7 linked regions of the Homo sapiens genome follow. The protein of the gene in region 3 purifies or fractionates together with the protein of the main gene of each other region. This does not show direct contact. Each region holds a gene or a part of one and is shown on either strand. Other genes may lie near its edges. The genes, in order: AGRN, SDC4, HADHA, NRP1, KPNB1, GPC4 and NRXN3.

Evidence for each region.
Region 1: the proteins of HADHA (region 3) and AGRN purify together in Homo sapiens (co-immunoprecipitation; 2 studies listed by BioGRID and IntAct, with this or other methods). This does not show direct contact.
Region 2: the proteins of HADHA (region 3) and SDC4 purify together in Homo sapiens (co-immunoprecipitation; 2 studies listed by BioGRID and IntAct, with this or other methods). This does not show direct contact.
Region 4: the proteins of HADHA (region 3) and NRP1 purify together in Homo sapiens (co-immunoprecipitation; 2 studies listed by BioGRID and IntAct, with this or other methods). This does not show direct contact.
Region 5: the proteins of HADHA (region 3) and KPNB1 fractionate together in Homo sapiens (co-fractionation; one large-scale study listed by BioGRID). This does not show direct contact.
Region 6: the proteins of HADHA (region 3) and GPC4 purify together in Homo sapiens (co-immunoprecipitation; 2 studies listed by BioGRID and IntAct, with this or other methods). This does not show direct contact.
Region 7: the proteins of HADHA (region 3) and NRXN3 purify together in Homo sapiens (affinity purification with mass spectrometry; one large-scale study listed by BioGRID and IntAct). This does not show direct contact.

What each region holds. Positions count from the first base shown.
Region 1 is NC_000001.11:1,050,169-1,053,867, reverse strand, and holds part of AGRN (agrin isoform 2 precursor), read right to left. Parts: intron 3,636-3,699; coding exon 3,539-3,635; intron 3,442-3,538; coding exon 3,277-3,441; intron 3,143-3,276; coding exon 3,031-3,142; intron 2,837-3,030; coding exon of another isoform or gene 2,825-2,836; intron 2,616-2,824; coding exon 2,499-2,615; intron 2,416-2,498; coding exon 2,223-2,415; intron 2,141-2,222; coding exon 2,053-2,140; intron 1,876-2,052; coding exon of another isoform or gene 1,852-1,875; intron 408-1,851; coding exon of another isoform or gene 375-407; intron 116-374; coding exon 1-115. UniProt on the Homo sapiens protein: Isoform 1, isoform 4 and isoform 5: neuron-specific (z+) isoforms that contain C-terminal insertions of 8-19 AA are potent activators of AChR clustering.
Region 2 is NC_000020.11:45,331,156-45,335,606, reverse strand, and holds part of SDC4 (syndecan-4 precursor), read left to right. Parts: intron 1-2,537; coding exon 2,538-2,584; intron 2,585-4,451. UniProt on the Homo sapiens protein: Cell surface proteoglycan which regulates exosome biogenesis in concert with SDCBP and PDCD6IP.
Region 3 is NC_000002.12:26,234,217-26,238,667, reverse strand, and holds part of HADHA (trifunctional enzyme subunit alpha, mitochondrial precursor), read left to right. Parts: intron 1-1,679; coding exon 1,680-1,813; intron 1,814-4,312; coding exon 4,313-4,451. UniProt on the Homo sapiens protein: Mitochondrial trifunctional enzyme catalyzes the last three of the four reactions of the mitochondrial beta-oxidation pathway.
Region 4 is NC_000010.11:33,212,153-33,216,603, reverse strand, and holds part of NRP1 (neuropilin-1 isoform a precursor), read left to right. Parts: intron 1-2,782; exon of another isoform or gene 2,783-2,886; coding exon 2,887-3,218; exon of another isoform or gene 3,219-3,366; intron 3,367-4,451. UniProt on the Homo sapiens protein: Cell-surface receptor involved in the development of the cardiovascular system, in angiogenesis, in the formation of certain neuronal circuits and in organogenesis outside the nervous system. Mediates the chemorepulsant activity of semaphorins.
Region 5 is NC_000017.11:47,655,785-47,660,235, forward strand, and holds part of KPNB1 (importin subunit beta-1), read left to right. Parts: intron 1-1,075; coding exon 1,076-1,276; intron 1,277-2,723; coding exon 2,724-2,876; intron 2,877-4,451.
Region 6 is NC_000023.11:133,310,273-133,314,723, reverse strand, and holds part of GPC4 (glypican-4 precursor), read left to right. Parts: intron 1-3,300; coding exon 3,301-3,466; intron 3,467-4,451. UniProt on the Homo sapiens protein: Cell surface proteoglycan that bears heparan sulfate. May be involved in the development of kidney tubules and of the central nervous system.
Region 7 is NC_000014.9:78,704,840-78,709,290, forward strand, and holds part of NRXN3 (neurexin 3), read left to right. Parts: exon of another isoform or gene 1-71; intron 72-3,942; exon of another isoform or gene 3,943-4,377; coding exon 4,378-4,451. UniProt on the Homo sapiens protein: Neuronal cell surface protein that may be involved in cell recognition and cell adhesion. May mediate intracellular signaling. Functions as part of a trans-synaptic complex by binding to cerebellins and postsynaptic GRID1.

The sequences.
Region 1 (3,699 bases), on a different chromosome or scaffold from region 3:
GGCCAGTGCCACATAGTCTGCCCGCTCCGTGGCCTTGCCACTCCAGAGCACCAGCCCCTGCGTGGCCTCAGTGCGCAGGCTCAGTTCAAAGTGGTTGCTCTGCAGTGCCTTCTCGCTGGAGGGCAGAGGGCAGGTCAGGGCCTCTAGGAAGGTGGCAACAGGACAGGGTGGGGGAGGCGGGAGGACAAGGGCCCCAGCTGCGGAGGCCACAAGGGCTGTGACGGGACCCAGGGGTGGCTGGTGGGCAGACACCGACAGTGGGAGGGAGAAGAGGGATGGAGACAGGGGCAGCCTGGCAGAGAGAGATCAGAGAGACGGGCGGGAGGACAGATGGGCCAGCCAGGGGTCTGCAGGCACTGCTGCCACGTGCTCACCTGTGAAGGGCCCCGGAATCCAGAGTTTCGGGGCTTAGAAGCAGGAAGAGAGGGAGGCGGGTGAGCAGGGGACAGGCGGGGCCAATGCAAACCCATCTCAACACTGTGGGGTGCAAGGAGCAGGCACCCACAGAAGACATGCGTGACCTCGAGGATCACTGGCCGCCCACCAAAGAGCCCAGCAGGGACACCTACACATGCTTGTGCGGACACGAGACACGTGAGGGTGCAGACACCCACGTGCAGACACGAGACACTTGAGGGCACAGACACCCACATGCAGACACCCACGTGCAGACACCCACGTGCAGACAGCAGGGGAGCACAGCCAAGGCTGGGCGCAGAGATCAAGGAGGTAGGCGTAGGGTGGTATGGAGTGGAGACCAGGGGCTTGGATGCCCCAGTACACACATGCATGTGTGCATGCACGCAAACCTACACACGGACACACACACCCCTCCATGTTCACACACATACACACGTGTACACGAACACACACAGACACACCTGAGTGCTCCCCACTTACACCTGTTCATACACACACACATCTACATATCCCCCCATATATACACGCATATACACGGACCCATGCACACACTCGGACACACACCTGTCTCCCCCACATATACACACACATACATGGACCCATGGACACACACTCGGACACACACCTGCGTGTCTCCCTCATATACACACACATACATGGACCCATGTGCACACACTATACACACATGGACCCATGCACACACACTCGGACACACACCTGCGTGTCTCCCTCATATACACACACATACATGGACCCATGTGTACACACTATACACACATGGACCCATGCACACACACGGACACACACATGCATGTCTCCCTCACCTATACACACACATACATGGACCCATGTGCGCACACACTCAGACACACACCTGCGTGTCTCCCTCATATACACACACATACATGGACCCATATGCACACACACACACACGGACACATACCTGCATGTCTCCCTCATATACACACACATACATGGAGCCATGCACACACACGGCCGCATAGTCACACACGCATATCTACATGTCCCCCCCACATATACACACACACATATACATGGACCCATGCACACACACAGCTGGATATTCACACACACTTGCACATCCACTCCATATACATAGACACGCACAGACACAGCTGCATGTTCACACACGCGGAAGTGCACACGGACACAGACATGCATGCATATGCGCACAGGTGTGTACAGCCTCAGTGGTGGGGGTTGGCTGTGGGGCGACCCTCGGCCTGTGCCCTGGGAGGGGCGACTGCACTTCTGAGGCAGGAAACGGCCTCTTGCAGCCAAATAGCGCCGGACCCCCATCCTCCGCCACAAGGGATGGAAAGTTCCCCGGGGGCTCCGGACTCTGCTCCCCACCAGGAAGGATGGAGGAGTGGGAGTGAGAGGGAGCGGGGGGCGCCGAGCTCTACTCACACGGGGATCTCATTGGCCAGTTCGCTTGGAAACAAAGAGACAGACAGTGAGAGGCGGGAGGACCGGGAGGTGAGAGAGAGGCGGGAGGACAGAGGTGGCAGCACCGGGCCGTCCCCTCCTGGGCCCTCCTGGTGTGGGGGTCCGGTGTCCCGCCCCGAGGGCACAGATGGAACCGACAGCCAGCAGAGGATGGCACGTTACCTCTCGGTCACAGCGTTGAGGTACTCGACAAAGGTCCGCCCGTCAAAGGCCAAGGTATCCACGTCCCCCGCTGACTTCTCCACCAGCCCTGTGAGATAGGCAGGTGAGGGTGGGGCCTCGTGGGCTCCGGGCCCATCCGGCCTCCGCCCCCTGCCCTGTGCCAGGCTCACCCTTCTCGCAGTGCGGTCCTGAGAATCCCCCGGGACACAGGCACACATAGGCAGCCTCCCTCGGGACGCAGGAGGCCCCATTGAGGCAGGGGTGGCCTGAGGCCCGGGTGCAGGGGTGACCTGCAAAGGACGTGACGTCCACCTGCCGCAGCACGTGCTCCGGGGTCAGCAGCTGGCGGCCTCCGAGGGAGACCTGCAGGGCAGGGTGAGGGCCTTGTCCCGCCTGCCACCCCGCCCGCCCCGGAGGCCCTGCTGGGACGCCCCGCCCCCACATACCAGCTGGATGGCACCGTCGAAGCCAGAGGACACGGCAGCAGCACGGGCCAGCTTGCTGAAGTCGGGAGCGCCCCCTACGTAGAGCGGCTCCTTCAGGTTGAGGACGGTGTGCGGAACCTGCGGGGACGCCAGGTAAGTGGCTGTGCAGAGCCCACCCACGGTGCAGACCCAGGGCCCAGGCACCTGCACGCACCCGCCCCACCCGCCCATTGCCTATCTAGGGGGCAGCGTTAATCACACAGAAATGGCAGGGTCCTTAGTGGGGGAGGAGCTACCCTAGGGGTTGAGGCGCCAGAGACGGTGAGCGGATGAGAGGCCGACAGTACCTTGCGGGATTTCTGGCCTCCGAAGAGCGGGTGGGGTTGCAGAGCGAGAGCAGAGAGCAGGGAGGCAGAGGAGGCAGAGGACAGGGCAGGCGGCCAAGAGAACAGGACAGAAAAACAGCTCCGTGAGCGCCGGCAGGGGCGGGGCTGCCGCCCGAGGAGGAAGAGCAGGCAGCAGCGGGAGTCCCCTCGCGGCCCAGAGCACTCACCGGGGACTCCCCCAACACACGGGGGCCGTCGCCCACACGCAGGGCACCCTTGCGGCCGTTTCGCTCCAGTGAGACCCTGGTCCAGGCTCCCAGGGTGACTGGCTCCCTGCTCCTGGTGAGGAGGGGCAGCGTGAGTGGGCTCTGTCCACCACCGGCCACGCGACCACCCAGGGCCTGAGCGACCTGCTGGTGCCCCGGCCCCGGGCCAGTGCCCCAGGCCTCCCAGAGCCACCCTTGCCGGCCCACCTGATGACCGCTGCCCCCTTGCCCAGGTCGTAGCGGAACTCCAGGCGGCGGTCCCGCAGTGCCAGCGACACGAAGTCCCCCTTGCCGTCCGTCTTCTGCCCGTTGTAGAGCAGGAGGCCGCTGGGGCCTCGTGCCAGGAACACGACCTCCAGCGCCATCTTCTCCCTGGGGTCATGGGGAGTCGGGGTGTCTTTGCTGTCCCCTCCCCACAGGAGAGACGGAGGTGGGGGCCGGCCCTTCCCCCTGCTCCTGCCCCACCGACCCCAGGTCCCGTGCAAAGGTGTGCAGGCCTCTCAGCTCCAGGTGGGAGAAGCCGTTGAAGTCAGCCAGGAAGGGCCCAGAGCCGTCCTGCCCCGAGGCTGTAGGGAGAGTCACCAAGGCCTCAGTCCTGACCCCCGGGGCCTCCTGCACCCCATGCCAGCC
Region 2 (4,451 bases), on a different chromosome or scaffold from region 3:
CTGAGAGCCCCTGGGGACAAGCTGTTTGCTGCTTTGAAGTCATTGGTAGCTCTGGGTTTTCTGAGCTCCAGCCTGAACGTGTCCTCATAAGCTCTTCTCTTTTCTGCAGGGCATGGTGGGGGTGGGGTGAGGGTAGGATGGGTGGCAGGACAGGGTGGGAGTGGGGAAGGAGGACCCATAGAGTGTTTTCCTTTTTTTGAAAGGAAAAGTTCCAGCCTGGGCCACATGGTGAGAACTTGTCTCTACAAAAACACAAAAATTAGCTGGATGTGGTGGCATGCACCTGTAGGAGTCCCAGCTACTTGGGAGGCTGAGGTGGGACGATCCCTTGAGCCTAGGAGGTTGGGGCTGCAGTGAGCCAAGATCATGCTACTGCACTCCAGCCTGGGTGACAGAGTGAGACCCTGTCTCAAAACAAAAAAGGAAAAGTAGCAGCTTAGAAGTGGGGATGGGGTGGGAGGGGGCATGAGTGGGCAGAGATGTAGTTGGGAAACCAAGAACAAGTCCCTGCTTCAGTGGGGGTGGGGGCGGGTGAAGGGCCCAAGGCCTCTAGGCCAGACAGCTAATAAGTGTCCCTCCTATGTGCAGAGAGGTGTTAATGATTGCAAGTTTTAGCTTTGCAAGTTTTAGCTTTGGAGTCACATGGTCCTGAGTTCAAGCCTCCATCCTGTGTGAACTGAGCTTCAGTTTTCTAATCTGTAAAATGGGAATAATAAAGATAGTACATCAGTGTTGTGGGGACTGAACTGACTTAAAGCTTTTGGCACCTACCAAGCACTCAGTACGTGTGTGTTTGGTTTAAAAAAAAAATAAATTTTATGGCCGGGCACGGTGGCTCATGCCTGTAATCCCAGCACTTTGGGAGGCCAAGGCAGGCAGATCACGAGGTCAGGAGTTTGAGACCAGCCTGGCCAACATGGTGAAACCCCGTCTCTACTAAAAATACAAAAATTAGCCAGGTGTGGTGTCGAGTGCCTGTAATCCCAGCTACTTGGGAGGCTGAGGCAGGAGAATTGCTTGAACCCGGGAGGCAGAGGTTGCAGTGAGCTGAGATCACGCCATTGCACTCCAGCCTGGTGACAGAGCAAGACTCTGTCTTGAAAAAAAATAAAAATAAAAAAATAAATTTCATTATGTGCATACAACATGATATTATGGGATACATATAGATAGTAAAAATGTTACTACAGTGGAGTTAAGTAATATATCCATCATCTCACATAGTCGCCCAGGAAATGTTTTAATATTGCAGTTAGAGTTTTCTTTCTCAAAAGTTAATTCCCTGGGGATCTTGTTAAAATGTAGATTTTGGCCGGGCGCGGTGGCTTACACCTGTAATTGAAGCACTGTGGGAGGCCAAGGCAGGCGGATCACAAGGTCAAGAGATCGAGACCATCCTGGCCAACCAACATGGTGAAACCCCGTCTCTACTAAAAATACAAAAATCAGCTGGGTGTCATGGTGCACCCCTGTAGTCCCAGCTACTCGGGGGGCTGAGGCAGGAGAATCGCTTGAACCCAGGAGGCAGAGGTTGCAGTGAGCCGAGATGGCACCACGGTACTCCAGCCCAGGCGACAGAGAGAGACTCTGTCTCAAAAAAAAAAAAGTAGATTTTGATTCAGTCAGCCCTGAAATTCTACATTTCTTCTTCTTTTTTTTTTAACCAATGAATTATTTTTACTCTTTTTAAATAAGTGAAATATTAGCTTTAATGTTTTCTGATCATGACAATATTTTTAGATAAGAACATTTTAAACATTCAACAGTAAGAGACTATTGAAAATAAATGAAATTCATTGAATAGAAGTAATTAAAATAATAATGTAACTCTTTAAGCATTGTAATGGAAAGATGTTAATGATATATTGTTACGAGCCCATTATTGGGAAAAATGTATTTAGGAATACGTATGGAGGGAATTTATTTATTTATTTTTTTGAGACGGAGTCTTGTTCTGTCGCCCAGGCTGGAGTGCGGTGGTACCATCTTGGCCCACTGCAACCTCTGCCAACCGGGTTCAAGTGATTCTCCTGCCTCAGCCTCCCAAGTAGCTGGGATTACAGGCGCGTGCCATCACCCGTGGATAATTTTTGTATTTTCAGCAGAGACGGGGTTTCACTATGTTGGCCAGGCTGGTCTCGATCTCCTGACCTCAAGTGATCTGCCCGCCTTGGCCTCCCAAAATGCTGGGATTACAGGCGTGAGCCACCGCGCCTGGCCTTGAAATTCTACATTTCTAACCAGCTCTCAGGTGTTGCTATTGGTTTTTGGATCCACACTTTGCAGAGCAAGGGTTTAGAGCTGATGAAGCCTCTGCCCAGCTGCCAGCTCACACATTCCTGTGAAAGAGCCAGGGGGTGGGTCTGAGGAGCCCCATTTTACAGATGAGATGACTGAAGTAGGGGTGGGGAAGCTCGCTTGCTGGACATTGAGCATTTGGAAGCTGGTTGTAAGGTGGAGCTCCCACCAGTCCTGGCTGAAGGGGTCATTTTCCTGGGGTAATGGACCTCACTCACACAGCTATTCTGACCTTACAGATGACTTGGAAGACTCCATGATCGGCCCTGAAGTTGTCCATCCCTTGGTAAGTAGCTACATGCTTCTGCCTCTTCCACTTTGCTCCTCTATAGCAGACCTATTGGGAGAGGCAGAAAATACAGCCCCCATAGGCAGAATAAGTGAGGGGTCTTACCCCACTATGCGGGAAGGCTTTTTAAAAATCTGGCCCTGGGGTGGGCATGGTGGCTCAGGCCTGTAATCCCAGCACTTTGGGAGGCTTGAGGTCAGGAGTTCAAGACCAGCCTGGGCAACACGATGAAACCTGTCTCTACATAAAATACAAAAATTAGCCAGGTGTGGTGGCATGTGCCTGTAGTCCCAGCTACTTGAGAGGCTGAGGTGGGAGAATGGCTTAAGTCCAGGAGGCAGAGGTTGCAGTGAGCCAAGATTGTGCCAGTGCACTCCAGCCTGGGTGACAGAGCCAGACTGTGTTAAAACAAACAAACAAACAAACAAATCTGGCCCCAGGCTCATTTTGTAGGTTGCTGGTAGGCCATCCTCCCTGCAGGGATAGTCACCGTCAACACCAACTCCTTTTCTCTACATTTATAGCTATTTCCTAGCATTGATAGAAAAGTATATATATAGGCCGGGCACAGTGGCTAATGCCTGTAATCCCAGCACTTTGGGAGGCTAAGACGGGCAGATCACCTGAGGTCAGGAGTTCGAGACCAGCCTGGCCAACATGGTGAAACCCTATCTCTACTAAAAATACAAAAAATTAGCCTGGCACAGTGGCGTGCGCCTGTAGTCCCAGCTACTTGATTGGGAGGCTGAGGTAGGAGGATCGCTTGAACCTGAGAGGCAGAGATTGCAGTGGGCAGAGATTGCACCATTGCACCCCAGCCTGGGCGACAGAGACTCCCTCTCAAAAAAAAAAAAAAAAAGTATATATATATAATTCTATGAACTGCGTTTTTCACTTAGACTGGTCATGAGTATTTCCCTGCATAATTTAATGCTCTTGTCATTTTTATAGGCTGCGTAATAGTTTACCTGATTCCCTTTATTGACGGAAAAATGGCTTATAATTTGTTAACATTTTAAAATTATAACACTGCAGCAAACATCTTTTTTATTTTTGCAAAGCAATAACAAGTTTATTAAGAAAGTAAAGGAATAAAAGAATGGCTACTCCATAGGTAGAGCAGTGGCATTGGCTGCTGGTTGCCCATTTTTATGGTTATTTCTTGATTATATGTTAAGCAAGGGGTAGATTATTCATGAGTTTTCCAACAAAGGGGTGGGCAATTCCCAGAACTAGGGGCTCCTCCCCTTTTTAGACCATATAGAGTAACTTCCTGACTTTGCCAGGGCATTTGTAAATTGCCATGGCACTGATGGGAGTGTCTCTTAGCATGCTAATGTAGTATAATTAGCATATAATGAGCAGTGAGACCAACAGTTTCATTGCCATCCTGTTTTTGGTGGTTTTTGGCAAGCTTCTTTATTGCAACCTGTTTTATCAGCAAGGTCTTTATGACCTGTATCTTGTGCAGACCTCCTATCTCATTCTGTTACGTAGGATGCTTAACTTACTGGGAATGCGGCCCAGCAGGTCTCAGCCTTATTTTACCCAGCCCCTATTCAAGATGTAGGCACTCTGGTTCAAACACCTGACATTTTCCCCCTCCCTTTTGTAAGAAAACCCTTAATCCTAAGGGTTGCAGAGGGACAAAGATCCATCTTCTATAACTTCTTCATGCTGAATAGGGTGATGATATTCCTGCTTAACTATTAGGGCCTCTTGTATCCATGGTAGAGAGGGGTTCAGTCAGAAAGGGCCAGTATGGTGAGGGCCATTCATAACTCTTAGTTCTGACAAAAGGTGATATCCAAAGTCCTCCAATCAGTGCTGCAGTCCATTTCCTTTGATTCGGGAGTCTCCTCCG
Region 3 (4,451 bases):
TAGAGAAGAACCAGAGTACAAGCTTTGTTTATAAGACTCAAAATTTGCCTACCCATCTTAAATATGAGGTTGTTAATCCATTTTCTTCATTACTTGCCTGACATAAGTCACTATTCATAGTAAGTTGGCTGAGTGAAATGTGGATACTTGGCTCTTAAGCTTCCTGAGGGATCTGAATGACTCAATGCAATTCACATATTGGAAATCAAGTTCTGTTCGAATTGAAACTTCTTTTGTTTTTGGCAGCTTCAATAAAGTGTGTAACAGTAATCCATTCTTTTGCCAAGAAGAGCTTTATTGTGAGAGTCCATGCTTTTCCCCCATCTAAATTTGGTGTATTCTTACTTTAAAAATCTTGTAGCCAGGCTGGGCACTGTGGCTCACACCTATAATCCCAACACTGGATGGCCGAGGCAGGAGGATCACTTCAGCCCAGGAGTTTGAGACCACCCTGGGCAACATAGCAAGACCTTGTCTCTATAAAAAATAAAAAATAGTTGGGTATGGTGATGTTCACCTGTAGTGCTAGCTACTCTGAAGGCTGAGGTGGAAAGATCACTTAAGCCTAGGAATTCAAGGTTACAGTGAGCTATGATTGCACCACTGCACTCCAGCCTGGGCCACAGAGCAAGACCTTGTCTCTCTAAAAAACAACAACAACAAACTTATAGCCAGAGGCTTAGATGTAATAAGACCTAGATGGAAGCAGTTGACAACTATCACAAATTAAGGTAAATAAGAGCCATTCCCCTTTACTAGAGTAAATTTTAGCACTCACTAACCAATGATTCAAGCTTAAGATATTTTTTCAGAATTTTCTTAGGTTGGACATTTTTCCTGAACACAAAAGTAATATATGTCAATGGTAGAAAATTTTTCAACTATAAAAAATTATAAAGAAGAAAATAATAAACATTCATAATTCAAACCTAAAGATAACCACATCTTTTTCTTGGTATCTTCCATGGGATAATCACATTTAATTCAGTTTCAATGAATAATATTTACAAAACTAAGATCATACTATATGGTTTTTTTTGAAGATAGGGTCTCATTCTGTTGCCTAGGCTGGAGTGCAGTGGCACAGTCACAGGTTAGTGCAGCTTCAGCCTCCCCAGGCTCAGGTGATCCTCCCACCTAAGCCTCCTGAGTAGCTGGGACTATAGGCGTGTGCTGTCAGGCCCGGCTAATTTTTGTATTTTCTGTAGAGGCAAGGTTCCATTATGTTGCCCAGGCTGGTCTCGAACTCCTGAACTCAAGTGATCCGCCCACCTTGGCCTCCCAAAGTGCAGGGATTACAGGGATGAGCCACCATGCCTGGCCTATATGTCTTATTTGTATTTCATTTTTTTCTTAACATTATGCAGATTTTTTCCATGCCAATAAATGTTTGTAGACCTATTTGTTTATAGCCTACATATGATTCAAACTCTGAGGATGACCCTGAGTTTCTCCTTTGAGAAGACCTATTTTTAAAGGAAGGGGTGCTTGTAGTGGGCCAAAGCTGCCTGAATAGAAAGCTACTGACTTGCTGGGAGAATGATATTTCTTACTCTCTTCTAACAGTATATTTCTGCCGGATAAGTATATTTCTTATAATCAAAATAGCATTTGATGGTGGTACGTACATCCAGTGCTTCAAATTTAAACCCTTACCTGTATATATTTCCCTTTGGCAGGTAAATACACTGAGTAAAGAGCTACATTCAGAGTTCTCAGAAGTTATGAATGAAATCTGGGCTAGTGATCAAATCAGAAGTGCCGTCCTTATCTCATCAAAGCCAGGCTGCTTTATTGCAGGTGCTGATATCAAGTAAGTTTTAGGAAACTTGAAGTCACCTTTTATCTTGGTTAATAGTGTGTTTCTTAGGCCTAATAATTTCTCCTTTTAAAAGAAAGTAGAAGTGCTGGGCACAGTGACACAGGCCTGTAAAATTGAAAATGTACGTATCAGGCTGGGTGTGGTGGTTCTTGCCTGTAATCCCAGCACTTTGGGAGGCCGAGGCAGGTGGATCACATGAGGCCAAGAGCTCAAGACCAGCCTGGCCAACATGGTGAAACCCTGTCTCCACTAAAAATACAAAAATTAGGCATGGTGGCACACGCTTGTAATCTCAGCTACTCAGGAGGCTGTGGCACGAAAATCCCTTGAACCTGGGAGGCAGAGGTTGCAGTGAGCCGAGATCACACCACTGCACTCCAGCCTGGGTGACAGAGTGAGACTGTCTTAAAAAAAAAAAGTATATACACACACACACACACACACACACACACACACACACACACAGAGTATATATATATATATATACACACACACACACACACACATCATGTGATCTAGAGAAATCTCACCCCTTGTTTATAAGAACCAGTGTACAAGGATGTTTGGTCCTGTGTAGTGTGAAATAATGAAGAATTTAAAACCAAATGTCAGTCAGTAGGAAAATGGGTAAGTAAAATGTGGACTATTCACACAATAGAATACTACAAAACAGGTAAAAGGAATTAACTAGATCCACAATATGATGTTAGAACTCAAAAACATAAGGTTAAGTTAAAAGAAAAGCAAATTGCAGAATGTTTCATACAGTATATAGTTTCTATAAATGTTTTAAAACCAAACATGGAATAATTCTTGATACTATTTATGGACACAATCGTAGTTGGTCTGGAAGGAGACACTACAAACATGAAGATGGCTGCTTTGGGGAAATGAAGTGGGTGGTAGGACTTGATTGTTAAAGGCAGCTTTACAGATGCAGCTAGTATTTTCTTTTCCTCTGCTAAATGGTGGAATGCATGCCTACATTAACTTATTTACAATTGTTTACACATACATAAGGAGGGGAAATGATATTTTAGTGTCAGTTTAATAGGTTAAAATGTTAAGTTGTCAATTCCATTAAAATATGGGTATTTGTTATGTTCTTTGTATTTTAGACAATGATAGCCAGCATTGTAGGTTTAGTAATTTGTACTGAAAGTGTAATTATTTATGTGTAGTAATCAGTCTCTTGTTAGGCACAAATAATTCAGCTAGAAGAAAAACCACTTGATAAGATAATTTTGGGTCTTCTAAAAAATTAACATTAAACAGAACATTTATAAAGTCTAACAAGACACTGATGTACCTGGCAGTAGCTACCTATATCCAGAGGAAAATACATGTAGCTTCTATGAGGCCAGCTGAGCAACTCTCAGTGTATAAAATTACAGAATATACTAGTTATCCTTGGTCAAAAGTACAAAATCCATATCCTAAGTGTGTTCACAAAATAGCAAATGAAACAAACTGAAATTAAAGGACATTGAGTGGAACATCATTGCACCTGATCATTTTTATTTACTTATTTATTTTTGAGACGGAGTCTCCCTCTGCTGTCCAGGCTGGAGTACAGTGGTGCGATCTCGGCCCACTGCAACCTCCACCTCCCAGGTTCCAGTGATTCTCTCGCCTCAGCCTCCCGAGTAGCCAGGACTACAGGAATGCAGCACCACGCCCAGCTAATTTTTGTATTTTTAGTAGAGACGCGGTTTCACCATGTTGACCAGCCTGGTCTCGAACTCCTGACCTCAGGTGATCCACCTGCCTTGGCCTCTCAAAGTGCTGGGATTACAGGCATGAGCCACCATGCCTGGCCTACCTGGTCATTTTTATTCATTAGTGGGATCTGTTAAAATGTTTTAGATTTCTCTAAACAACCTGGAAGCTTTTCTTTTGCGTCATTTTTATTGCTGTTAACTACCTGATAGTGAAATGTTTAATCTGATAGTGAAGTAATTTACCAAAGATGATTTTCCCTTGTACCAAGCTTTGTAATTTAATGATTTATTACAGAAGTAAAAATAAATTATGCAACACATTTATGTTTTCTGGATCCAGAATTTTTTTTTTTTTTTTTGAGACAGAGTCTCACTCTGTCGCCCAGGCTGGAGTGCAGTGGCGCGATCTCGGCTCACTGCAAGCTCCACCTCCCGGTTTCACACTGTTCTCCTGCCTCAGCCTCCCAAGTAGCTGGGACTACAGGCGCCCGCCACTATGCCCAGCTAATTTTTTGTATTTTTAGTAGAGACGGGGTTTCACCGTGTTAGCCGGGATGGTCTCATGGATCCAGAAGTTTAACACTCTTTATGGAGAAATGATGTTGCTGCTATTGTGCTATTTGAAGCAAAATCATTCTTAACCTTCTATTTGAAGATTTGTCATCAAATATTGATGCATGATAGGATAAGTGTATAGTGAATAAGTATTGAACCAAATAAATTATAGTTTTATCTTTTTCTCTGTTCTCTACTTTTATGGATAATGCAGCATGTTAGCCGCTTGCAAGACCCTTCAAGAAGTAACACAGCTATCACAAGAAGCACAGAGAATAGTTGAGAAACTTGAAAAGTCCACAAAGCCTATTGTGGCTGCCATCAATGGATCCTGCCTGGGAGGAGGACTTGAG
Region 4 (4,451 bases), on a different chromosome or scaffold from region 3:
CATCCACATGTAGTCCTAGCTACTCAGGAGACTGAGGTGGGAGGATTGCTTGAGGCCAAGAGTTCAAGGCTGCAGTGAGCCATGATCACACCACTCCACTCCAGCCTGGGTGACAGAGTGAGACCCTGTCTCTAAAAATAAAAATTAAAAAAAAGGCCGGGGTGTAGAGGGGCCAGGCGCCGTGGCTCACACCTGTAATCCCAGCACTTTGGGAGGCCGAGGCAGGCATCACGAGGTCAGGAGATCGAGACCATCCTGGCTAACACTGTGAAACCCCTCTCTACTAAAAATACAAAAAATAAGCCGGGCGTGGTGGCAGGCGCCTGGAGTCCTAGCTACTCGGGAGGCTGAGGCAGGAGAATGGCGTGAACCCGGGAGGTGGAGCTTGCAGTGAGCCAAGATCGCCCCACTGCACTCCAGCCTGGGAGACAGAGCGAGACTCCTTCTCAAAAAAAAAAAAAAAGAAAGAAAGAAAGAAGGGAAATGCAGATAAAATGGTGTGAAGAGGCCCAGAAATGGAAAACTGTGTCCAGTTGCAGAGAACAGAAAAACTGAGTAAACGATGTGGCATTTGAAAACAGGTCAGGATTTTAAGCAGTTCAGATAATGGAAAAGGGTAACATGACAGGGAATTCCTTGTGGAGGGAACAGAAAGAAAGCTCCCAAACTCCCAGAAGTAAGGAAGTTCTTCATGCCAATTGGCACTGGTTAAAGGAGTGAATGGGGAGAGGCCTTGCAAGGACATGACATGGAAGGCCTGCATGCCTGACTGAAAATGACGTGCGTAATTTCTAGACAAGAAGGCACTGAATGTCTGAGTAAAGAAACGACATGATCTGGACCATAGAACTCATGTGGAAAGTATCTGAGTAATGAATTCTTAAGGTTCAGCTGATAATGTGGACTTAGTTTAATTGCATTAGATGTTTGCCTCTCACTTAGGGGTAGTTATATTTTTAGGCTAAATTTTTATTATATAACGCAGAATTGAGTTGCTTCAAAGAAAAATAGGTTATCATTCTTGCACATGTTCTTGATTAGGATGTACAGTTTCTAAAGGAAAATACTTGAAGTGTTGGACATTTTGTCATTAAGCCAGCGTTGAATTCATCAACAACTGATACTCTCCTTGTGCTCAGAAGCTCCTTGGGCTGCTTTAGAAGACATAAAAAGGTCTATGATGCTGTTCATTGCCTTTGAAGATCTTATAATCTAGCTGTGGGTACATGACTAACAATCTTAAAGCCTTAGAGAGCAGTGGAATGCTGAGCTCTGTGCTACTTACATCATATTTCTGAGAAGGGAGAGCTCAGAATAAAAGCTAGAGTAGCTTGAAAAGTTCTCTTCATGAGTCTTAAGCTGGGTTTTGAGCAAAGGCAATGATGAGGATGACGTCTAGACTGTATGAGAAGAGAATTGCTTAACTGAGATGTATTGTCAGTAATAGAAAATCAAATTAGGCAAATGGGATGAAGTCAAAATGAGGGTCTTGAATGCCAGATCGAGTTTTGATATCTTCCTATCAATAATGGAAAACCATGGTACATTTTCAAAAGATATCTCTTTTCTATTGTCGGGGTAAAATATACATAACATAAAATTTACCGCTTTAACAATTTTCAACCACTTTTAACCATTTTAATTTTATCATTGTACATTTTTAAGTGTACAATTCTGTCGCATTAAGTACAGTCACATTGCTGTGCAAGCATCACCACTATTTCCAGAATTTTATAATTGTCTCAGACTGAAACTCTGCACCCATGAAACACTAACTCTCCCAATCTCCATTTCCCCCAAGCCCTGGCAACCACCATTTTGCTTTCTGTCTCTACGAATCTGACTGATCTAGTGATAGGCTACTCCTATCCATGGAATCAGACCATATTTGTCCTTTTTTTGTTGGGCTTCTTTCACTTAGCAGTGGAGATTTTTGAGGATGAGAATGACATGCTTAAAACAACATTTTCTGAAAATTTAAGTAGCAGTTGGTGTAGTGGAGATTCAAAGTGGGGTCTGGGAGGCCAACCAAGAGCTGATGTAGCACCCTGGCCAGAGCGCTCGGATCAGGATAAATCCAGAAGAAAGGAAGGTAGCAACAAGAGTTCTGTTGCTTTCTTGTACTTAATAAAAACAACAGGATTTGGCAGCAAAACGGAAATGACGAGATGACTAGGCAGGAAGTGGATGATTGGTGATGCCACCAATTAAAAGACAGGGTTCAGTGAAAAGATGCAGTATCCAGGGGAAAGGACTGTCTTAGTCTGCTTGTGGTACATTTGAGATGACAGTGAGACATTCATGTGGAAAGTCCCCAATGCAATTAGAAATAGGGGTGGGGAGAACAGTTGTGGGGGATCATGGTCACTATTCTCCCACACTCAATTCAAATGCCACCTCCCCTGGGAGGTCCTCTATTACCTCTGCAGGCTGAGTATGCATTCGTTCTCTTTACCTCTGCATCACTGTCTCTTTACCTTTGTTTTAGCAACCTTCCTGCTATCGGATTGACTTCTATGCATATCTCCAATCCATCATAAACTATGAACTTCTCTTAAGCAGGGCCAGTACTTGATCCAGGGATGAATTCTGGATACCAAAGAGACTGAAATATGAATGTTAAACTTAGAAGATGTCAAAGCGGGGGAAATGTATGTTCTTATTGAAGATTTGCCTTACTGGGATGTGAGTTTAGAGACGGGAATTCTGACAGAGCAGGAGGAAGGTTTGAGGGAGGAAAGATTTACTGTAAAATAATCCAGAGACTGAAAATTGTATATGATTGGGTACAAAATCATGTCTTTATTCCATATGTTGTATTTTATTTCTTAGCATGGAGTCGCCCAGGAAATCATTTTACATTATCTGTTTCATTTCACTTCCCAGATTATCCTTGCTCTGGAATGTTGGGTATGGTGTCTGGACTTATTTCTGACTCCCAGATCACATCATCCAACCAAGGGGACAGAAACTGGATGCCTGAAAACATCCGCCTGGTAACCAGTCGCTCTGGCTGGGCACTTCCACCCGCACCTCATTCCTACATCAATGAGTGGCTCCAAATAGACCTGGGGGAGGAGAAGATCGTGAGGGGCATCATCATTCAGGGTGGGAAGCACCGAGAGAACAAGGTGTTCATGAGGAAGTTCAAGATCGGGTACAGCAACAACGGCTCGGACTGGAAGATGATCATGGATGACAGCAAACGCAAGGCGAAGGTGAGGGCTGGGGACTGGGAGGAGGTCATCCCTTATGTCCTTGACTTCAATCAAGGGCCTCTGGCATTCTCCCGAGGAAGGGCTTCTTATTTCCTTCCAGCCATGACATTAGAGGAGGTGTGTGATGGGGTCAGTAAGACCCTTGATTCTAGGAAGACAGGAATATGGCATGAAAAGTGATGTCTGAGATAACATGCAAAAGAATTGCATTGCTGGTCCCATTCCCTGGCTGTAGGGATGGACAGACAGCTCAACATGCAGACAGGAGACGGGGAAGCCCAAGGCTGACAGCAGCCATCCAGCCAGCGCTCAGAACCCCTTGCAGATACCACTCAGTCGTTTGGGTCTGCCCTCCCCCCATCTCAAACCTACCCCTAGTTTAAGTGCTTTGTTTCTTTTATAAATTTTTATTGTGGGCCAGGCTCAGTGGCTCATGCCTGTAATCCCAGCACTTTGGGATGCCGAGTCGGGCGGATTGTCTGAGCTCAGGAGTTCGAGACCAGACTGGACAGCACGGTGAAACCCCATCTCTACTAAAATACAAAAAATTAACAGGGTGTGGCAGCGTGTGCCTGTAGTCCTAGCTATTCTGGAGGCTGAAGCAGGAGAATTGCTTAAACCCGGGAGGCAGAGGTTGCAGTGAGCTGAGATTGCACCACTGCTCTCTAGCCTGGGTGACAGAGTGAGATTCCGTCTCAAAAAAAAAAAATTAATTGTGATAAAATACATATAATATACAATTTCCCATCTTAACCTTTTTAGTGTGCAGTTCAACAGTGTTAAGTATGTGTATATTGTGCAACCAATCTCTAGAACTTTCTCATCTTGCAAAACTGAAACTCTACACCCATTAAGCAACAACTCCCAGTCCCCCTGCCCCCAGCCTCTGGTGACCACCTCCACTTTCTGTCTGTGTGAATTCAACCATTTTAGGGACCTCATACTGTATTTGTCTTTTTGTGATTGGCTTATGTCACTTAGGATAATGTTTTCAAGGGCCATCAGTGTTATAGCATTGTGTCAGAATTTCCATCCTTCGAAAGGCTGGATAATATTCATTGTGTGTTTATACCACACTTTGTTTATCCATTCAGCCACTGATGGACACTTGAATTGCTGTCACCTTTAGCTATTGTGAATAATGCTTAAGTATATTTCTTTATGCGTTGAAACCTTTTAAGATGCAGTAGGCTCTTGATAATCCAGTGAAAAGAAAAGGAAATCTCAACACAA
Region 5 (4,451 bases), on a different chromosome or scaffold from region 3:
TGCCATTTACTGCTACCTCCTCTTGTAACTTCTGGTTTCCCACCTCGTGTTGAAGGTTGAAGTGAGGTGGGATGACTGGTTTTGTTTCTAGGTTCTAGGGCAGTGTTGATTATGCTGATGTTGCTACTGAGGCTGGTTTTTTCTGACAGCCTTTCCTACTTCTCCGTATTATAGATAAGAATTCTGAGGCCAGGCACAGTGGCTCACGCCTGTCATCCCAGTACTTTGGTAGGCCGAGGTGGGTGGATCACCTGAGGTCAGGAGTTTGAGACTGTCCTGGCCAACATGGTGAAACCCCATCTCTACTAAAAATACAAAAACTAGCCGGGCATGGTGGCAGGCACCTGTAATCCCAGCTACTTGCTGGGGGGAGCTAAGGCAGGAGAATCGCTTGAACCCAGAAGGCGGAGGTTGCAGTGAGCCGAGATCGCGCCATCATGCTCCAGCCTGGGGGACACGAGCGAGACTTTGTCTCAAAAAAAAAAAGAATTCTGAGACAGCTGCCTGGGCACAGTGGCTCACACCTGTAATCCTAGCACTTTGGGAGGCCAGGAATTTGAGACCAGCCTGGGCAACATAGGGAGACCCCCATCTCTACTAAAAACCCAAAAAAGTTAGCTGGGTGTGATGGCATGTGCCTGTAGTCTAAGCTACTCAGGGAGGCCTGGGAGGTCAAGGCTGCAGTATCGTTGTGCCATTGCACTATCGTTTTGCTACTACACTCCACCCTGGACAACTGACTGAGGCCTTGTATTTTCCTTTTTTTTTTTTTGAGCCTGGGCAATATGGTGATGCCCTGTCTCAACAAAAGATAGCTGGGCATGTCAGCATATCCACCCCTGTAGTTCAGTTACTCAGGAGCCTGAGGCGGGAGGATAGATTGCACCGTAGAGATTGAGGCTACAGTGAGCTGTGATCGTGCCACTGCACTCCAGTCCGGGCAACATAGTGAGACCCTGTCTTAAGAAAGAAAGAAAAAAAAGAATTCAGAGACACTAATATAAGTATGGTGGTGGGCAAAATGTGGTCAAATAGTGTTAGAAATTTGTATCTTTTGTCTTTTTTTTTGGTGCAGGTTTTGCAGACATTGGGTACAGAAACTTACCGGCCTAGTTCTGCCTCACAGTGTGTGGCTGGTATTGCTTGTGCAGAGATCCCAGTAAACCAGTGGCCAGAACTCATTCCTCAGCTGGTGGCCAATGTCACAAACCCCAACAGCACAGAGCACATGAAGGAGTCGACATTGGAAGCCATCGGTTATATTTGCCAAGATATAGTAAGTGCTTGCCTAATGTATCTGGTTTATATACCTCTGATTGCCTCTAGCTGTGACATCAATGATATTAGTACTACCTTATTGAATCACGAAGAAAGCCAAGCTAAATTGCACAGTTTTGAAAGTGAGACTGATTTATTTCCCTTAGGCCTGTGTCTTCACATTGCTAATCATGCCCTAAAGTAAAGAAACTTGAGGATCGCAAACTGAAAACAGAAGTCTATGTTTGAAGAGTCTTAGATTCTAGACTTACAAAATGAGGATATTCTCATTTGGATTATCCCTGACCCAGTCTTTTTTCTTAAGATCCCGAATGTACCATGAATGTTGTGGCGCATTTTCATTTACAACATTACGGAAAGTTTTGCCAACATTTGATGTAGTTGGTTTAGCCACTGGAGACACAGTATTTTAGATGTAGCCCCCCCAGCACTGTTGTTCCTGATGAGGTTACCACTCTTGGTGTGTATTTTAATATATAGACTTTATGAAGCAAAGGAGCCCACAGCACTTGACCCAGACTTAGACTCCCTAGATGTGCCTAGGTGTCGATCCTTGGCCTTGGCCCTTAAATGCCCTGAAGCTTTACTTTAGAGTACAGATGGCCTGGAAAATACGAACAGACTGCCATCTCCATTTGCACAGAAGTGGGGAGGAAAGCGAATATTACCTCATACCCAGAGTCATTATGCTAAGAAGTCAAAGATGAAGTTGATGAGTTTGACTTGGTTTTGTTCAGTTCTGGATTGCCAGTACCATGAGACATTTTGCAGGTGGTTTGCAGTGTTATTCCCAAATGGAAACGGGTGGGGAAAGATCACCAATTCATGATACTTTCTTGAGTGAACTTTACAGTTAAAAGGACTGCCAATTAAGCCAGGCACAGTGGCTTACACCTGTAGTCCCAGCTGCTTGGGAAGCTGAGGTGGGAGGATCACTTGAACCCAGGAATTTGAGGGTTCAGTGCATTGTGGTAGTGCCTGTGAATAGCCACTGCACTTTAGTCTGGGCAATACAGACCCTGTCTCTTAAGAACAGAAGAAGGACTGCTTCTGTCGTGAAGCTCCTTATGGCAGTCTTTTGGAGGGGATTGATTCCAGCACCCTCCTCAGGTACCAAAATCCTCAGATGTTCAAGTCTGTTACATAAAATGGTGTAGTATTTGCATATAACCTATGCACATCCTCCCATATACTTTAAATCATCTCTAGAATACTTACAATACCTAATTCAATGTAAATGCTATATTAATAGTTGGTATACTGTATTAAGGGAATGATGACAAGAAAAAAAGGTGTACATGCACCTTTTGGTGCAGTACAGATGCAACCATCCATTTTTTTTCCTCTAAATATTTTCAATCCATAGTTGTTTGAATCCACAGATGTGGAACCCATGGCTGCAGAGGGCTGACTGTATATTCATTGCACTTCTCTGCTTGTTACAGGACCCAGAGCAGCTACAAGATAAATCCAATGAGATTCTGACTGCCATAATCCAGGGGATGAGGAAAGAAGAGCCTAGTAATAATGTGAAGCTAGCTGCTACGAATGCACTCCTGAACTCATTGGAGTTCACCAAAGCAAACTTTGATAAAGAGGTAAGTTTTTTGACAATAAGGTATAGATTCAGACAGTAAGGGATGAAAGAGTTGAATGAAAGTTTTTTGTTTTGTTTTCTTAAGTTTATGGTTTAGAAAGTACCACCTACTTAAAAGTATTTGTTTCCAGTTTAGTCGAGTTCGTATTGTGTGAGATATCCCCATGGAGTGTTTGCCGTTTCTCATCATGCTTTTGGAAATAAAGTGTTTCTAAGCTTAGGTTTTTCCTTTTGCAGTCCAAAGTGTGGAATGTTGTTGGGTTTTTTTAAATTATAGGGCATGGTGGTGCATACTGGTACTCCAGCTACTTCAGAGGCTAAGGCGGGAGGATTGCTTGAGTCCAGTTATTCAAGGCCAGCCTGGGCAACAAAGTCAGATATCGTCCCTTAAAAAAAAGAAAGGAATAGGCTGGGCGATGTGGCTTAAGCCTGTAATCCCAGCACTTTGGGAGGCTGAGGCGGGTGGATCATCAGGTCAGGAGTTTGAGACCAGCCTGACGAACATGGTGAAACCCCATCTCTACTAAAAATACAAAAAAATTAGCCGGGTGTGGTGGCGTGCGCCTGTAATCCCAGCTACTCAGGAGGCTGAGGCAGGAGAATCACTTGAACCTGGGAGGCAGAGGTTGCAGTGAGCCGAGATTGCAGCACTGTATTCCAGCCTGGGCGACAGAGCAAGACTGTCTCAAAAAAAATAAAAAATAAAAAAAATAAAAGAAAGAAATTATGGTATGTACTATATATGTTGGTTTACTTTGGTTTCTTTTAAGATTGTGTGAATCTTTTGCCTTGTACTAAAGATTTTGTGGAGGCCGGGTGCTGGGGCTCACATCCAGTAATCCCAACACTTTGGGCCACCAAGGCAAGAGGATCACTTGAAGCCAGGAGTTTGAGACTAGCCTGTGCAACGTAACAAAACCCTGTCTCTAAAAAAATTTCTGTGGAGAAGAACAACTGAGTTGTTAACCAGTTTTGTGAGCTCTTGTGTTTACAGGGCTTATAATGGAAAAAAAATAATGAAAAATGAAATAAATAAAAATTATAGCAATTGGTCTGTTTCATACCACCTTAGGAAGGTGTTTTTAAGAAACAGGATATATAGCCAGGTGCTTTGGCACATGCCTGTAATCCCAGCTACTTGGGAAGCTGAGGTGGGAGGATCACTTGAGCCTGGGAGTTCAAGGCTCAAGATTTCACCACTGTACTTCAGCCTGGGCAACAGTGCAAGACTCTGTCTCCAAAAAAAAAAAATATATATATATGTATATGTATGTGTATGTATAATATATATGTAAACATTTTGGCTGAAAATGCAATGAATAACATAAAATTTACCATCTTAAATCATTTTTAAATGTATAGTTAGTTAAGTAGATTCACATTGCTGTGGAAACAATCTCCAGAACTTTTTCATCTTGCAAAACTGAAACTGTACATACTGAACAACAACTCCTCATTTCCCCCTTTCTCAGCCACTGGTAACGACCATTTTACTTTCAGTTTCTATGTATTTTACTACTCTAACGAAATACCTTACGTAAGTGGAATCATATTTGTCTTTTTGCGACTGGTTTGT
Region 6 (4,451 bases), on a different chromosome or scaffold from region 3:
GAAATAGTGCATGGTGGTCTGACTAGTGGTTATGAGACAAAAGACAGATTTTTTTTCCTAACTTTGATATTTTATATGTCCTTTCTCTTTCCATTTTTCTTATAACTTCCTCATCTCTCTTTTCAGTTCTGGTATTATTTAGTGTTTCCCTAGCATGTTGTAGCTGAGTTGCCTGTGACCATTTTTAGTAGTTACACAACAAATCATGTACAGAGCATGAGCCAGCACTTAGCCAAATAATGAAATGGAAGAACTCTGCCAAACTCAGCATCATAATTTCCCTTAATAAAACTCTACTGTGTCATTTAGTTTGGTCTCTTTTTAAAACTTGAGCCTCCATCAGCCTATTTTAGGGGAGGGTACTACAAGGTCTGTTGCATAAATGATTTGACTTGCAATTGAACTAAGAATACAATGAACCACTTCCTAGAGTTATTTTTTAAAAGAATGAGAAAGGACTTCTTTGAAAAAAGAAGTGTTTTCTGAATATAACTATTTTGGGTCTAAAATTTTTGCTCATTTCCTAAAGTCCTGTACCACATTGGAATTGCTTTGTATTTTGTAGAACAGGTTTTGTATTCTAATATAGAAATTCTTAACTTGCCTTGTTACCTAAATTCAAATGCATTCCAGAATAATCCCTGGCACATAGTAGGTGCTCAGTAACTATTTGTTGACCCCTTAGCTTTCTACGTTTCTTCTTACGAGGGCATTGTCTCCTCTTAAGCATAATATTCAACAAATGCCACGTGCTATTCAGTGATTTTTCATTTCATAGCCACTTGCATAACTTTTACCTCTTTAAAATCTAGCCATTTTGCAGTCTCATCAATGTGGAACCCAACTAAAACTAAAGTAGGAAATAACCAGTGCCTAAGATTACAGTTTCCTGTCATCTGGCAGGGAAACGTGATACATCTGGGAAATCTTTTCATCACAAATGCTTGATAAGGTATAGTACTGGAATCCGATGTTGTGAGGTGACTGTCAGCAAGTTGCTTAATCTCTTTGGCTTTGGCTTGGTTTTTCTTATCTATCAAATGTGAGAGCAACACTCAGTGATCTCTCTGGTCCCTTCCAACTCTAAGACTTCTGTGATCCTATGCTTCTCAGGCCACCTCCCCCCTCCAGTCCTGTTTGCTCCTTTACAAAAGGAGAGGGGGACATGTAGGGAAGTCTTAACAATCTGTGACTTTAAAGGAATGAACTTTCAGCTGTCCAGCAAATCTGGCTATCCAGAAAAGGCCATTCCTCCAGGGTATATTGGTTAGCCAAAATTTTACTGTACATTAATACATAGTTAGGACTAATTTAGTGCCTAGGAAAACATTTGGGAATGGTTAAAACTGTGGAAAAATCTTAATTCTTGGTAGGGCAGTGTATACAATTACCATTTTATTGTTACACGTATTCCCCCCTTTTAGGCTAGAGCCTTGTTTGGGATGAGGGGAATGGATGTGCACATGCATCACGTAGGAGCCTGACTGTTTTTTTTCTCCTGACACCACTAATCCCCTGTTCCTGTTCCTAAGGGCACTGCTGATAAGTGATATCCAAAGTAACACTCCAGAGCAGGTGAAGTGCATTGCCGGGCTGCCCTGCATCCCAGCATCTCTTCCCTGTGGTGGTATCTGCCTCCAAAAGTCTGTGTTAGCAGAACTGGTGGGTACTTACACAGAAGAATGCACTAATCCTCTGATACTGACTCCAAAAGAGGAGGGTGGGGCAGAGAGAAAGAGGAGACAGGAACTTTTAATTAGCTGCTAGAATGCTATACCTAGCCCCAATCCTTTCTAAGCATTGAGGAAAACAAGTGACCGGATGGAATCAGCTCTTCTACACCCCAAATAATTTCACTTTATAAAACTAGATGAAATGAAGTCCCATTTCTCTGGAGAGGACAGCCAGCCCAATCTGACTTGGGTAATGTTTCTGTCTTTCTTCCTTTCCTTCCTCACAAACTTCCAGTCATAGCCCCATGTGTCCTGCCATATGGTGTCCCTGTTTGTTTGTTTCTCCTTTCTTCCTTTCTTTCTTTTTCTTTCTTCCTTTCCTTTCCTTTCCTTCTTCCTTTCTTCCTTTCTTTCTTTCTTTTGAGACAGAGTCTCACTCTGTCACACAGGCTGGAGTGTAGTGGTGAGATCTCGGCTCGCTGCAACCTCCGTCTCCCAGGTTCAAGCAATTCTTCTGCCTCAGCCTCCTGAGTAGCTGGGACTACAGGCACACACCACCATGCCCGGCTAATTTTTGTATTTTTAGTAGAAACGGGGTTTCACCATGCTGGCAAGGCTGGTCTCGAACTCCTGACCTTGTGATCCGCCCACTTCGGCCTCCCAAAATGCTGAGATTACAGGCGTGAGCCACCGTGCCTGGCAACTGGTATCCCAGTTTCTGCCTGATGTTTAAGCCCCTCTAAATTCTGGCCACACGCATACTCCTGTGCACCTGACCTTATTTCCCGCAATTCCCCAACCCCATTCTGAGATGCAGTGACATGTCCTGTACTCTCCTACAGGTTTTGTTCATTTCATTGAACTTAACTCAGGATGCTCTCCCTTTGTTTGACCACTTAAGTCCAGCCCCTTTCTCGAAAATTTAACCAAAGCCCCACCTCTTTCATCAAGTGTTCTGTGAACACTCTGTGCTTTAGTACTCCCAAGCCTTGGAAAACCTTCACACACCCCCTAAGTTTAAGATTACTCATATTCTGCCTTGTAGAATATATTAACTTTGCCTTCTGCACAGCTCTTGGCACAGAACAGAAGACACCGTAGGTACCCTTCTAAACCTTAATTTGGGGTTAGGGTTCAAAGGACAGCCTTGTAGTCAATGTAATGCAGAAGAAGATGTGCTTCTGTTCCAGTCTGGCAAAGACAAACACTGATGGTTGAGGCTATTAGCAGGACGTGCATGGTGGGCACATGAAGATAGTCTCCTCCACTGCATCTCATGGCTCACCCTGCATAGTTATTTGTAAAAGGATTTTGAGATAATTGAGCAATTTATGTGTGTGTGAGAGAGAGACTCCAGGAGGGAAGGGGGTGGGGGAGGAATGGGTGTTTACAGGGTGGGAGTTGGTGCACCTTGTTTGTTTTGGGTCATCTCCCTCCTCTCCCCTGTCCCAACATGTATCTTTTATCTAATCTATGTCTTCAGGAGGCAGTCCAGGCTTACTAATTGTGATCAATCACAACTCATTCTTAAGTTCATGGCCAAGCCTTCAGTGTCAATGTGATAGAAGCAATTTCTGTCTCTATTTTAGCCCCGCCACTACTGTCTTTTTTTCTTTTCACACATTAGGTAAACCCCACAGCCCAGTGTACCCATGCCCTGTTGAAGATGATCTACTGCTCCCACTGCCGGGGTCTCGTGACTGTGAAGCCATGTTACAACTACTGCTCAAACATCATGAGAGGCTGTTTGGCCAACCAAGGGGATCTCGATTTTGAATGGAACAATTTCATAGGTGAGCAAGTGGTTAACATATTTGTGTTGCTGGAGATAGCTTAGCTTCCAGTCACAAGGAATGTTGTAATTGGCAGCTATGAAATTTGTTTGTTTAAGTGTTTGCTATTTAGTGTTTGTCAGAATCCTGACTACGCTCAACTACTTTGAGAATAGTAAAAACATTACTGCAAGTGAATGTTCCCTCAAACTAATGGTGGCATTTCTGAAGGTAATAGATACAGTGGCTGCCAGGTTTTAATAATGAGAAAATGCCTTTTTCTTGGAGACAGAGTCTCTTTCTGTCACCTAGGCTGGAGTATAGCAGCACAATCATAGCTCTGTGTAACCTGAAACTCCTGGGTTCAAGCGATCCTCTCACCCTCAGCCCCCCAAAAGCCCTGGGATTATAGGCATGAGCCACTCACTGAGAAAGTGTCTTTTTGATATTTCCCGCCTGAAAGTCAGTTGTGTTTATGATTATAGGCTTGTATCCATGTAAATGCTGGAGTACAGTCCTCATGGAGTTGTAAAAGTGGCTTTTAAAATGTTATATCTATTACACTGCAACTAAATCTTCTGCAAACCGGCCAGATACGCATTTGTTATTTGGATCAGGTGAAATCTGATTGAGAAATTCAGGGATTCTGTTTCTGTACACCATTTAGCAGTAGTAGTCTGCTCTGGTGAGAGTGGAAGGACTTTAGCCCTGAGAATTTAAGGGATACATATTCCTGCATATATATTCCACCTAGAAAACCATTCTCAGAACCCAGACAGCAATGTAAATGAAGTGGCCAATTGCAGAGAGGGTTAGTTATGATTTTGGGGAAAGGACAAATTAAGGAGAATTTAAATGTCCAGTTGTCAATTACCTTGATGCCTGAAGCAACAGTAACCAGTGTTGAAGTTCCTTATGCTGAGTATTAGTAGGACCGCACACACATACTAACAGCTCACAAAAAGAAACTCACATTTTTCCCCACCCTAGTCACCTTTGCATAATT
Region 7 (4,451 bases), on a different chromosome or scaffold from region 3:
ATGGTAGGCTCTTTTCTTATATTGTTCCGGCTCTCAGCTTGCTTTACTCCTGGTATTGCTCCTGTGTGTCTCTGTATTAAAGATCATGGAGGAATATAAGTATATTTTTTTCCTGAGAGACTTTGTCTTAACTTTGAGATTCTGTCCTCAGCTGTTTTACTGTCTGGTCTCCTAAGCATGAGTCACGTGTCCAAACAGCAGTCTTTACAAGCCCATGGGTGGGATAGTAAGACCAGCTTGTCACTGTTTGTGACTCTGCTTCTGTACCTCCCAGTCTGTGTGACATCTTCCCCCATGGGGAGCCGTTTCTACTTTGTCTTTAATTGCTCCTCACCGAGGCGACTTGTCAGCCAAGGCTGCTTTCTGTCATTTGATGCCACATCTCTTCCTATTTCAGCCAGCCATTTGGGGACATTCATTTAGTTGACAGTCTGATTTTACAGAGAACATTGTACCAGACAATAATTTGCCTTGTAAGGGGGTCCAGCAGGGTTTCCTGCCTCCATGCTGACCCAGGGTGCCAGTACACTTCTGCGTGGCTGTGGCTGTGGTTCTGCACAGAGCAGGTGGGGAAGGTGAAGATATTAACAATGGAGAGTCCCAGTTGAGCATCACTGGGCTACAAGTCCCTTGCCCTCCTGTCCTTTTCCTCTTGGTAGATAAACCTTCACAGAACCTCAATTCAGGACCCTATCCATTTCCAACAGAACCCCAACACCATGGGAGATGAAGATATAGGATTATTTCTTCCTAGGTTTGTGTGCCGGTTTAGAATTGTCTGTGTCCTACTATGTCTAACATCCCACTTGATCTTGACAACAGCCCTGTGAGCTGGGAAAGAGGGACAGTTTGTGGAACAGATATCGAGGCTCTTACCTTTGGAATAAATAAAATGGGACTCAGAAGGGTTATTCAGCTGTCAGTGAGAGTGGTGTTGGCTTTTTATTCACAACAGTGAAAACTCCATATAAATAGACAGGTAATTTCAGGGCCATGGAGTAGATAGAGCACTCACCCTCAAAGAGCCTTTGAGAGAAGTCTGGTTATCTCTGTCTGGCCAGTTTCTGGCCCTTGCTTCTCTTACCTATGTCTTCAGAAATCTTCATTCCGGCTATTCACCTTCTCTCCCAGTCTCAGTTAGGTACCCTTCTCACAGAAGAGTTCCTCTTCACTGCTCTTGTATCTTGTTAAAAGGCTTTTTTTTCCCTCCTTTTTATTCTGTCCCCAGCCTGCTGTAGCAATGCCTGATCTCTCTTTCTATTTATTGTTCCATGGAGCCAAACCTCCTTCTGTCCCTTTGGGATGACCTATTGTTATACATTAATAATTAACCTTTACTAGGAACTCTAGTCACAGGCATTTAACCCAAATGCAGAAAAAGCCAAAGTTTGTTTATGACAAAGAGTTCTCACATGCTAAGGTATAATAGTGAAGGTTAGAAAGGAGAAGCTGACACTCATTAAACTTTTATGATTTCTTTTCTGGTTTACTCACTTGAGTGATTGCCTGAGGATCCTGCAATATTTCCCTTTGCACATGGTCAGCCCAGTTTAGCTAAAATGAAAAATTCAGCTTTTGAATTGTGAAGTTGAGCATGCATGACTTTCCATGTAATGTTAAAGATAAGCCTCACAGGTGCTGCTAGTGGGGCCTGGTTCTGAGCATATGGACCCTGGGGCCCAAATGCCTAGGTTCAAGTCCTGCTCTGCCACTTATCAGCTGTGTGCCTGTGGGCCGGTTCCCTAACTGCTCTCTGTGTCTGTTTCTGCATCTGTAAAATAAGGCAATGATTACAGGTATCTCAAATGGGTGTTGTCTGTATCTAATGGGATGGAGAGGTGTTAAATCCTTACCATGGTGCCTGGTGGTAGGTGCTTAATAAGTGTTAGTATCATTATTTTCAATGTTATTGACTATGGTTAGGTCCACGGTCAAGGTTACATAATAGTGAGTCATTTTCAATGCTTCGCCATAGTTATATATCACTCTTGTAATATCCATTAGAATGCAAACAGCTTTGCTTGATTCTCTCCTGGTGATGAGAGATGGGAACTAATTCTACATTTAAATATTGGGGATTATATGATATGTGCTGGAGTGACCCATCCAATTAACTTTGTCTCACAGATATGGACAGATGAGGCTTATTTTAGAAATTAGCCATTGTTGTTTTGGAGATGATAATGCAACCTTTTCAGGGCTGTGGAAATAGCGAAATGAGATTAACAATAACCCTCCAAATAGCTGCGACTTTTGTGCCCTTATGATATTGCATTCCTAAGTGCTTCACATGTTTTAAATCATTTTATTATTACAAAATAAATAGTTTGTTTATTCCTATGTTCCCAATTTCAGGAGAGGAAACAGACTCAGAAAATTTACTTTGCCAAAGTCACATAGCTTGTAAGTAGTAAATGTGGAATTCAAACCTAAATCTGGGTCCTGACTTAGAATTTGAATAAGGTAATATAAAGAAAATAGGAAAATAGTTGGGACGCTCAATACTCAGATCCTTGTCTATTTCCCTTCCATTGTTTTCTGCTTATTAAGTTTTTATGGATACGACATTGCTCAGAGATCAGAGCGCCAAAAACCATTCCAGGGTACTGTATCAAATTTCAGTTCAAATAAGAGTAAAACTTTTTTGAAATTCTAATTTCATGGAGAAAGATTAATTTCTGCTTTTAGATGGATTATACCTGGTTTAGAAAGTCATAACAGATTTTTTTCCCATAGGTTATTGGGGTTCAGGTGGTGTTTGGTTACATGAATAAGTTCTTAAGTGGTTATTTGTGCGATTTTGGTGCACTCATCACCCAAGCAGTATACACTGCACCCTATTTGTAGTCTTTTATTCCTCACCCTCATCACACCCTTCCCCTCAAGTCCCCAAAGTCCATGTATCATTCTTATGCCTTTGCGTCTTCATAGCTTAGCTCCCACATATCAGTGAGAACATACAATGTTCGGTTTTCCATTCCTGAGTTACTTCACTTAGAATAATAGTTTCCAGTCTTATCCAGGTCACTGCAAATGCCATTAATTCATTCCTTTTTATGGCTGAGTAGTATTCATATATATATATCACATTTTCTTGATCCACTTGTTGATTGATGAACGTTTGGGTTGGTTCCACAATTTTGCAATTGGAAATTGTGCTGCTATACACATGCCTGTGCAAGTATCTTTTTCTTATAATGACTTCTTTTCCTCTGGGTAGATACCCAGTAGTGGGATTGCTGGATCAAATGGTAGTTCTACTTTTAGTTCTTTAAGGGATCTCCACACTGTTTTCCATAGTGGCTGTTAGACAGTCATAACAGATTTTTTTAACTGCCATCCTCACGTTCTCCACCTACCTACCCACTCTGCAGGACAGTGGCCATGGCTTTGCAGAAGTGTACACTAACCTTGGGTAGGGCATGGAGGCAGAAAGCTCTGCTGGACCCCCTTGCAAGGTGAATTAGTATCTGGTTCAGTATTCTTTGTAAAATCAGACTCTCAACTAAATCAATGTCCTTGACTGACTGGCTGAAATAGGGCTTCAGGGTGTCTCATTCTACCACTGTACAGAGGGCACATGCAATGTGCAAAAAATAAAAACAAAAACAGACCTCTGTCCCCACCAGCTTTTAACACTTACTCTTTTCTTTCAAGTAATATATCCACATGGTTGAAAAAAAGTCTAACACTGTAAGAGGGCACAGTGAAAAGTAAGTCACCCTCCCACTCCAGAATATTAATCCCGCAAATATACTCCCCAATGACAATTTTATAGTTCCAAAGAGACTTTATGCTTACTGGAGCATATATACATATAATGCCCCCACGCCCCCACACTTTTACACAATGATAACATAATGCACCCTCTATCCTGTTCCTTGACAATTTCACTTAACAATGTGACCTGGAGAGCTTCCACATCAAAACCAAAAGCAATACCTTGTTTGCAAGGCCTGCCTAATATTCCATTATAACGCTGTGCCATCTGCTATTGATGGTCATTTAGGTTGTTTCTGGTATTTTACTAAGGGTGCTTCAGTAAATCACTTTGTATGAAGTATGTGAATCCATGCAACTCGATCTCTCTTGATTTTTATTTGCAAGCTTATGTTGTATAACTTTCTGACAACACAAGAAATTGGCCAGGAGACAAAAGAAATTCTGTAGAAATATAGAGGCTTTTTTGGAGCTTGTGTGCACATCAGATGTTTCTTCAGATACCTTTTTGGTTCCTGTGTCTCATTGTTTCTCATGTTGTTTTGGGCTATGTCCTGAAGCCTCTTTTTGGGTCATTTTTCCAGGTGCCCAGTGAGTGATGGATGGATACTGTTTGCAAGATTGATTCACATGGCACTTTTGTTTGGCTTTTGACAGGTTGTTTATAAGAATAATGACATCCGTCTGGAGCTGTCTCGCCTGGCCCGGATTGCGGACACCAAGATGAAAAT